Linked DNA regions of Homo sapiens: region 2 is reported to be linked to region 1. Evidence: microRNA targets listed by miRTarBase, many of them from high-throughput screens and not tested one by one. Region 1 holds a microRNA gene; the other region holds the end of a gene's coding sequence.

The links. Region 1 holds the annotated microRNA hsa-miR-4426 (GAAGAUGGACGUACUUU, at 1,378-1,394, shown strand). A microRNA usually pairs through its seed, bases 2 to 8, with sites in the 3' UTR of a target mRNA and lowers its output. Matches are read on the target gene's strand: a 7mer-m8 pairs with bases 2 to 8, a 7mer-A1 pairs with bases 2 to 7 and ends in A, and an 8mer does both.
Region 2: miRTarBase lists TNPO1 as a target of hsa-miR-4426. The part of its 3' UTR that is shown has no 7-base or 8-base seed match.

The regions. Positions count from the first base shown.
Region 1 is chr1:192,714,956-192,719,359 of GRCh38, forward strand. It overlaps MIR4426 (microRNA 4426), which reads left to right and starts at 1,373; the gene lies at 1,373-1,435. It also overlaps the pseudogene RPS27AP5.
Region 2 is chr5:72,904,960-72,909,363 of GRCh38, forward strand. TNPO1 (transportin 1) reads left to right here. Exons shown (of 25, transcript NM_002270.4): 24 at 344-486; 25 at 3,750-4,404. The coding sequence ends at 451. Among named protein-coding and RNA genes, the nearest start is that of MIR4804, 29 kb to the left of the region's middle.

The DNA of each region.
Region 1 (4,404 bases):
AAGAGGCTCCTCTGCTTATGGAAAGGAGAGGAAAGAGTGGGAAGAACTTCATCTTATTTGGTAGAATAAAGAAGCAGGTAGATTTCTTAGGTTTTTGACTCTAGTCCTTGGCTTCTATATGGCATCTCTGGACCCACCTGAAGCTTGGGAGAACTCACCACCCTGAAGGGAAGGACATGAGCCTGGCTGACTTCACCACCTGCTGATTGTAGAGGTTTAGGGCCTTCAGCAAACATAGGCAGTAGCCAGGGAGTGGTTATGTCAGGCTTTAGGTGAGACACAGTGCTGTGCTGGCTTTAGGTATGACCCAGTACAGTCCCAGTGGTGGTAGCCACAGGGTTGCTTGTGTCATTTCAACCCCAGCTCCAGGTGGCTCATAACAGAGAGAGAGAGAGAGAGACCTTGTTTCTTCAGGAGAAAGCAAGGGATGGATGGGGACAAGAGTGTCTGCCTGGTAATCCAGAGAATTCTTCCTAACCCTATCCAAGACTGACAAAGTGGTACCTCTATGAGTCTGCAGGAACCATAGCATTACTGGACTTTGAGTACCCACTGATACAGATATGGCATAGATCACAACACCCAAGTCCTTTCAAATACCTGGAAAGCCTTCCCAAGAAGGATGGGTACAAACAGACCCAGACTGCGAAGACTACAATAAATGCCTAACCTTTCAGTAGTACCCAGACACTGAAGAGCATCCACAAGCATCAGTACCATCCAGGAAAACATGATGTCATCAAATGAAATAAATAAGGCACCAGGAACCAATCTTGGAGAAACAGAGATATGTGACCTTTCAAACAGAATTGAAAATAGCTGTTTTGAGGAAACTCAAAGAAATTCAAGATAACACAGAAAAGGGATTCAGAATTTTATCAGATACATTTAACGAAGGGATTGGAATAATTAAAAAGAATCAAGCAGAAATTCTGGAATTGAAAAATGCAAATGGCATACTAAAGAATGCATCAGAGTCTCCTAACAGCAGAATTGATGAAGCAGAAGAAAGAATTAGTAAGCTTGAAGACAGGCTATTTGAAAATACAGTCAGAGAAGACAAAAGAAAAAAAAAAAACAATGAAGTACACCTACAAGATCTAGAAAATAGACTCGAAAAATCAAATCTAAGAGTTATTGGCCTTAAAGAGGAGGTAGAGAAAGATATAGGAGTAGAAAGTTTATTCAGCTTTTCGATCCGCCATCTGCAGTGGAGCCGCCACCAAAATGCAGATTTTCGTGAAAACCCTTATGGGGAAGACCATCACCCTCGAGGTTGAACTCTCGGATACAATAGATAATGTAAAGGCCAAGATCCAGGATAAGGAAGGAATTCCTCCTGATCAGCAGAGACTGATCTTTGCTGGCAAGCAGTTGGAAGATGGACGTACTTTGTCTGACTACAATATTCAAAAGGAGTCTACTCTTCATCTTGTGTTGAGACTTCGTGGTGGTGCTAAGAAAAGGAAGAAGAAGTCTTACACCACTCCCAGGAAGAATAAGCACAAGAGAAAGAAGGTTAAGCTGGCTCTCCTGAAATATTATAAGGTGGATGAGAATGGCAAAATTAGTTGCCTTCATCGAGAGTGCCCTTCTGATGAATGTGGTGCTGGGGTGTTTATGGCAAGCCACTTTGACAGACATTATTGTGGCAAATGTTGTCTGACTTACTGTTTCAACAAACCAGAAGACAAGTAACTGTATGACTTAATAAAAGACATGAACTAAAAAAAAAAAAAAAAAAAGAAAGAAAGTTTATTCAAAGGGATAATAACAGAGAACTTCCCAAACATAGAGAAAGATATAAATATCCAAGTACAGGAAGGTTATAGAACACCAAGCAGATTTAACCCAAAGAAGACTAACTCAATGCATTTAATAATTAAACTCCCAAAGGTCAAAGATAAAGAAAATATCCTGAAAGCAGCAAGAAAAAATAAACAAATAACATAAAATGGAACTCAAATAATTCTGGCAGCAGACGTTTCAGTGGAAACCTTATGAGCCAGAAGAGTTGCATGAAAAATTTAAAGTGCTGAAGGAAAAAAACTTTTACTCTAAAATAATATATCCATTGAAAATATCCTTCAAATATGAAGGATAAATAAAGACTTTCCCAAACAAAAATTGAGGGATTTCGTCAACACTAGACCTGTTCTACAAAAAAAATGCTGAAGGAAGTTTTTCAATCAGAAGGAAAAAAATGTTAACAACCAATAAGAATCATCTGAAGGTACACAACTCACTGGTAATGGTACACAGAATATTATAACACTGTAATTGTGGTGTATAAACTAATCTTAAGTAGAAAGACTAAACAATGAACTGATCAAAAATAATAAATACAATAACTTTTCAAAACACAAACAGCACAATAAACTATAAATAGAAATAACAAAAAGTTAAAAGTGTGGGGACAAAGTCAAAATGTAGAGTTTTTATTAGTTTTCTTTGCATTTGTTTGTCTCTGCACTCAGTGTTAAGTTCTCATCAGTTTAAAGTAATGGATCACAAGATAGTATTTGCAAGCCTCATGGTAACCTCAAATAAAAAAAACATACAACAGATACACAAAAAATAGAAAGCAAAAAGTTAAATCATACCACAAGAGAAAATCACCTTCACTAAAAGGAAGATAGGAAGGAAAGAAAGAAGAAAGGGAAGACCACAAAACAACCAGAAAACAAATAACAAAATGGCAGGAGTAAGTCCTTACTTATCAATAATAATGTTGAATGTAAATGAACTAAATTCTCAAAAGACATAGAGTGACTGAATGAATTAAAAAAAAAAAACAAAAAAACTAAGACCCACTGATCTGTTGCCTACAAGAAACACACTTCACCTTCAAAGACACACATAGGCTGCAAATAAAGGGATGGAAATAGATATTCCATGCCAACAGAAACAAACACACACAAAAAAAGAGCAGGAGTAACTACACTTTATATCAGACAAAAGAGATTTCAAGACAAAAAACTGTAAGAGAGACAAAGAAAGTTATTATATAATGATAAACGGGTCAATTCAGCAAGAGGATATAACAATTGTAAATATATATATACCCAACACTGGAACACTCAGATAGATAAAGCAAATATTATCAGAGAAAGAGAGAGAGCCTCCAATACAATAACAGCTGGTGACTTCATCACCTCACTTTCAGCATTGGACAAATCTTCCAGACAGAAAATTAACAAAGAAATATTGAACTTAATTTGCACTACAGACCAAATGGGCTTAATTGATATTTACCAAATATTTCATCCATCAGCTGCAGAATACACATTCTTCTCTTCAGCACATGGGTCATTCTCAAGAGTAGGCCATATGTTAAGTCACAAAAATATCTTAAAGCATTCAAAAAATTTGAAATAATATCAAACCTCTTCTCTGCCCACAAATGGAATAAAACTACAAATCAATAACAAGAGAAATTTAGGAAACTACACAAACACACAGAAATTAAACAATATGCTCCTGAATGATCTGTGGGTCAATGAAGATATTAAGAAGGAAATTGAAAAATGTCTTGAAACAAATGATAATGGAAACGCAATATACTAAAACCTATAGGATACAGCAAAAGCAGTACTAAGAGAAAAATTTATGTTTATAAGCACCTACAGCAAAAAAAGAAGGAAAACGTCAAATACATAGCCTAACAATGCATCTTAAAGAACTACAAAAGCAAGATAAAACCAAAGACAAGATTAGTAGAAGAAAATAAATACTAAAGATCAGAGGAGAAACAAATGAAATTGATACAAAGAAAACAATACAAAAGATCAATGAAATGAAAAGTTGTTTTCATATAAGATAAACAAAATTGACAAACCTTTAGCCAGAATAAGAAAAAGAGATGACCCAAATGAATAACATCAGAGTTTAAAAAGAAGCCATTAAAACCAATAACACAGAAATCCAAAGGATTTCTGCCTACTATGAGCAACTATATACTAATAAGTTGAAAAATCTAGAAGAAATGTGTAATTTCCTAGACACATAAAACCTACCAGGATTGAAGCATGAATAAATCCCAAACCTGAACAGACCAATAACAAGAAACAAGATTGAAGCCATAATAAAAAGTCTCTCAGCAAAGAAAAGCCCAGGACCTGATGGCTTCTCTGCTAAACTCTACCAACCATTTAATCCTTTTCCCATTTGCCCAAAGAATACTCACTAGCAGCACCTGCAGCTAACAGTGTTTACCCTGAAATTTTGCCACGAAATATCTTGCTTTCATTATTATTTTTGCAACACTCTAGCATATCAACTTTGGAAAGAAAAAATGTCATTCTATTTATAGCATTCTGGTTTTAGTAGTGGTATTTCCATTTACAAAATAAAGTAATTCTTGACTGCTAAAAATGTCAAAACCTAGAAAACGTGAAATTCCTA
Region 2 (4,404 bases), not on the chromosome of region 1:
GTGAAACGGGTTTCCCCTTATCAAACCGTCAGATCTCATGAGACTTATTCACTACCACCAGAAGAGTATAGGAAAAACTACCCCTATGATTCAGTTATCTCCCACTGGGTCCCTCCCACAACACGTGGGAATTATGGGAGTACAATTCAAGATGAGATTTGGGTGGGGACACAGAGCCAGACCATATTAGCAGGGAATGGTGTAGAATCCTACGAAGTTTGAGAATTGCTACTTTAAAATGGATAAAATTTATAAAAAAATCAGCTGTGTTGGATTTCAGAAGCTATGCTGATCTGAATTTTTCTCTTGTTATTGATAAATTAATGGTTTTTCACTCTTACAGATCCTTCATGGATTTAAAAATCAAGTTGGCGATGAAAATTGGAGGCGTTTCTCTGACCAGTTTCCTCTTCCCTTAAAAGAGCGTCTTGCAGCTTTTTATGGTGTTTAATCTAATACACTTAAGCTGCAGTCCCAAAATTAGGGGTAAGTTATAAGAAGTTTGGAAATTTTCAGGATGAAGAAAATTTTGTTAGGGCTGTCATTTCAAACTACTAAATAGAATAAAAAGCTATTTGTTTTCTATAGAGGTTGAATAAAACATAGCCTCATATCATTCTATCTTGGGCTTTAAATTTAAAATTACTTAAGTGGGCCAGGTGTGGTGGCTCATGTCTGTAATCCCAGCACTTGGGGAGGCCAAGGTGGGCAGGTCATTTGAGGTCAGGAGTTTGAAACCAGCCTGGCCAACATGGTGAAAACCCATCTCTACTAAAAATACAAAAATTAGCCACGTGTGGTGGGACGTGCTTTTGTAGTCCCTGCTACTCAGGAGGCTGAGGTGGGAATATTGTTTGAACCTGGGAGATGGGGGTTGCAGTGAGCCAAGATCTTGCCAGTGCACTCCAGCCTAGGGGACAGAGCAAGACTCCATCTCAAATAAATAGAAAATAAAATTACTCAAGTGAAGGCTAAAGAAATTTTCTTAATAGAACCAACAAGCCCAGAAAAACGATTAGCTCCAGTTTGAATCGTAGGTATAAAGAAATCCACGTTGGTACACTGGTTGGATTTCTCAACATTGCTTCAACTATTCCTTTTTTCTTTCTTTTTTCCTGCAAGAAGACATCGGCACTCATAGTGATGGGGTAAAATTGATTTCATTTTGGAGCATGAATTTATAGTCTCTGCTGTAACAAGGACTTTTCATTTCACGTGCTTTGAAAGAAAACTCAGTTGGGTTTTGGCCCACTGTTTTTGTTTTTCACTGTATGTTTCACTGAGTACCTACCATGTGCCCATCACTTTTTTTTTTCTTTTTTTTTTTTTTTTTTTTTTTTTTTTTTTTTTTTTTGAGACAGAGACTCTTTCGCCCAGGCTGGAGTGCAGTGGCGCAATCTGAGTTCACTGTAATCTCCGCCTCTTGGGTTCAAGCAATTCTCCTGCCCGAGCCTCCCAAGTAGCTGGCATTACAGGCACATGCCACCATGCCTGGCTAATTTTTGTATTTTTAGTAGAGATGGGGTTTCACCATGTTGGCCGGGCTGGTCTCGAACTCCTGACCTTGTGATGCACCCACCTCGGCCTCCCAAAGTGCTGGGATTTACAGGCGTAAGCCACTGAGCCCAGTGCCTAGGACTATATTTTAAAATAAGCAATGAAAGATTCTGTTTTAATTTGGGATGGACTATATTCATTTGGACTCTTGCTCCTTGAGCTCTTCTGTACTTAAATGGGACTAGCAGTTCTCATCTCTGAGCTTCGGTTTTGTCATTGAGTTATGTTGAGGATTAAATACTATACTGTATGTGATGCCAGAACTTAGTATGTTGCCTGGCACACTAAGTTGACTCAGTAAAGGTTAGGAACTGGGCCAGTACAATAAATATCAGGGTTTTGACATTCATCTTTAGATTTTCAACATGAATTAAGACATATCTGACTGGAAGCCAGAAGATGTGCTGAATGAGCATGTACAGAAGATGTACACCAAGTTGAATTACACTTTAGATTGAATTGGAGGAGTTTTTTTGGCTTGCTTGCTTGCTTGTTTACTCCAAGCTAAAATTTAAATCTGGAAAGATTTCACCATCCAAGCTGTCTAACCTAGAAGGTAGTAGAAATGGACTCAAAGCTTCCAGAATGTGTCAGAGCCCTTCATATGTGTTGTCCTACTTCAGTCTTGAGTCCTCAAGAGCTGTTTTCCAAAATGGCTTTGGCATTTTGGAAAAGTGCTGGATTCACCTTATGTTAAATTATGAGAATGCAAAAGATGAGAATGACTTGTAGCTTCAAAGCTTCAATGAGCTACTAACAAGTCTTGAGCACTTTCAGATTTATTACCTCTGTGGTCTCATCACCAATCATGAATTAACTGTTCTAAGACAAGGTATGAAATAGTTCTCGGTTTTGTAATTAGAGCTAAAAGTAGATCAGTATCTTTTATTCCTGCCTTTTTGTACTCCTCTTCCTTTTCTTCAGAGGCAGGAGAAAAGGGATTGCTTATATTTCTACACAGATGGATTAACTGCCCTCTGTGAATTCACATGAACGTTCATAAATGGCCAAAACTTGGCATGATTGGGTAGTAGAGTTCTGTTTGTAAAAGGACCACTATCAGGTAACAGTTTAAATCTCCCAGTAATCTTACCTTATTTCTTAATATCCTTTTTATCATTAAAACTGTTTAGCATAGAAAAAAGTTCCTACCAGAAAAACCAAGTGACTGGAAGATAGTGGAAATGACCAAGTGAAATAGGATCAGAATGGGAACTAATTAGGAACATCAAGAAGGCAAGTGTAGGCAGGGTGTGATGGCCCACATCTATAATCCTAGCATTTTGGGAGGCTGAGGTGGGAGCATTGCTTGAGCCCAGGAGTTTGAGACCTGCCTGGGCAACATGATGAGATCTCCATCTCTATGAAAAAAATTAAAAAGAAAAAAATGAGCTGGGCATGGTGGTATGTACCTATGGTCCCAGCTACTCAGGAGACTGGGCAGGAGGATTGCTTGAGCCCAGGAGGTTGGGGCTTCAGTGAGCCATATTCACACCACTGCGTTCCAGCCTGGGTGACAGAGCAAGGTGCTATCTCCAAAATAAATAAATAAATGTTAAATTTGCTTTTTTCTCTCTCTCTTTTTTTATGTAGAATTTGTTTGTTGATACTTACTGAATGTAGTGACCCTGCTGTGGTAATGAACACTTCTAGTGCCTTCTAGGCTTAAAATACCAGACAACCCCAAATAACAAATGCTCTTTTGTGTTTTGATAGGTTGGATTTCTGTTTGCTTAATATTGGGAATACTGGGGGAAAAAAAGATGGTGTTTTCATTCTAAGGATTGTCCTAAAGAAAGTGCTACTTTATTTTTAAGAAAGTAAGGCCACTTGTTATATAAGAAATAACAAGTTCCCATTGGGTCCCATTTTGCAAAAGGGGATAAAGAATTAGACTGATAGCATCATACGAGGCATATTTCACTATACAAAGTGTTGTACACCTGTCTATACAACTCTCCTACCCAGCTTGACCTCACTTTTCATACCTGATGCAGCAAACAATTCAGTGCCATAGGAGAAGGAAGCAGCATGGTTATAAGTGACTAACACGATATTAGGCAATTTGTCCAAATTTCTCATTTTCTTTATAGGTAAAGATAGCATTCTTATTTGATTAATTTTTTGTTCCACTGGCTTTGAAAGACAAACGATTGTTAAAGATAAAATTGTTTTTGTTCTTTTTCTTATAGGTCCTTCAGTCTTGGAGACTATAAGGGAGCCTCTGCACCCAGGGAAAATGTTACCCTTTACAGGGGGGAAGGGTAAACCAGTAGGGAATACAGTACAATCCCAACCCTACTGGGAGGGGCGGGAGGGAGGTGTTGCCGTCACTGTATTAAGTCGATGTTGGGAAACGTTTTAACATCTGGAGCCTTTGTGGGTGGAAATATGTCTCCAGTTACAACTCCGCAGTGGATGTGAAGAAGCAAAAAAAAAAAAATCTATTCAGTCTACTCACAAAACAGTACATTGTGGAATATTATGGGGAATTGTACCAAAACAAGAACCATATAAATGATGCCTAGGGACAAGAAAGAGGAACAATTCTATAGCGCACAATAAAGGAAACCTAAGAATGGGAGTTACAAATAGTAAAGAAGCTTTTTTTTTTTTTTTAATTTAAAGTTTTTTTATGTAAGTTTTCCCACATGATGGGGCCTTGTTTTGCATGTTGATGAAGAACTACACAAAGAAAACTAATATAGTTAAAAGTCAGCTTGCCTTCCCGTAGTAGAAGCAGGTTCTTGGAAGTTACAATTTAAGGTACCCCAAAAAAGTTGGAAATAAAACAAAACAAACATAAACAATGAAGCACCCTGTGAAATGCCAAATGAGTCACTCCTT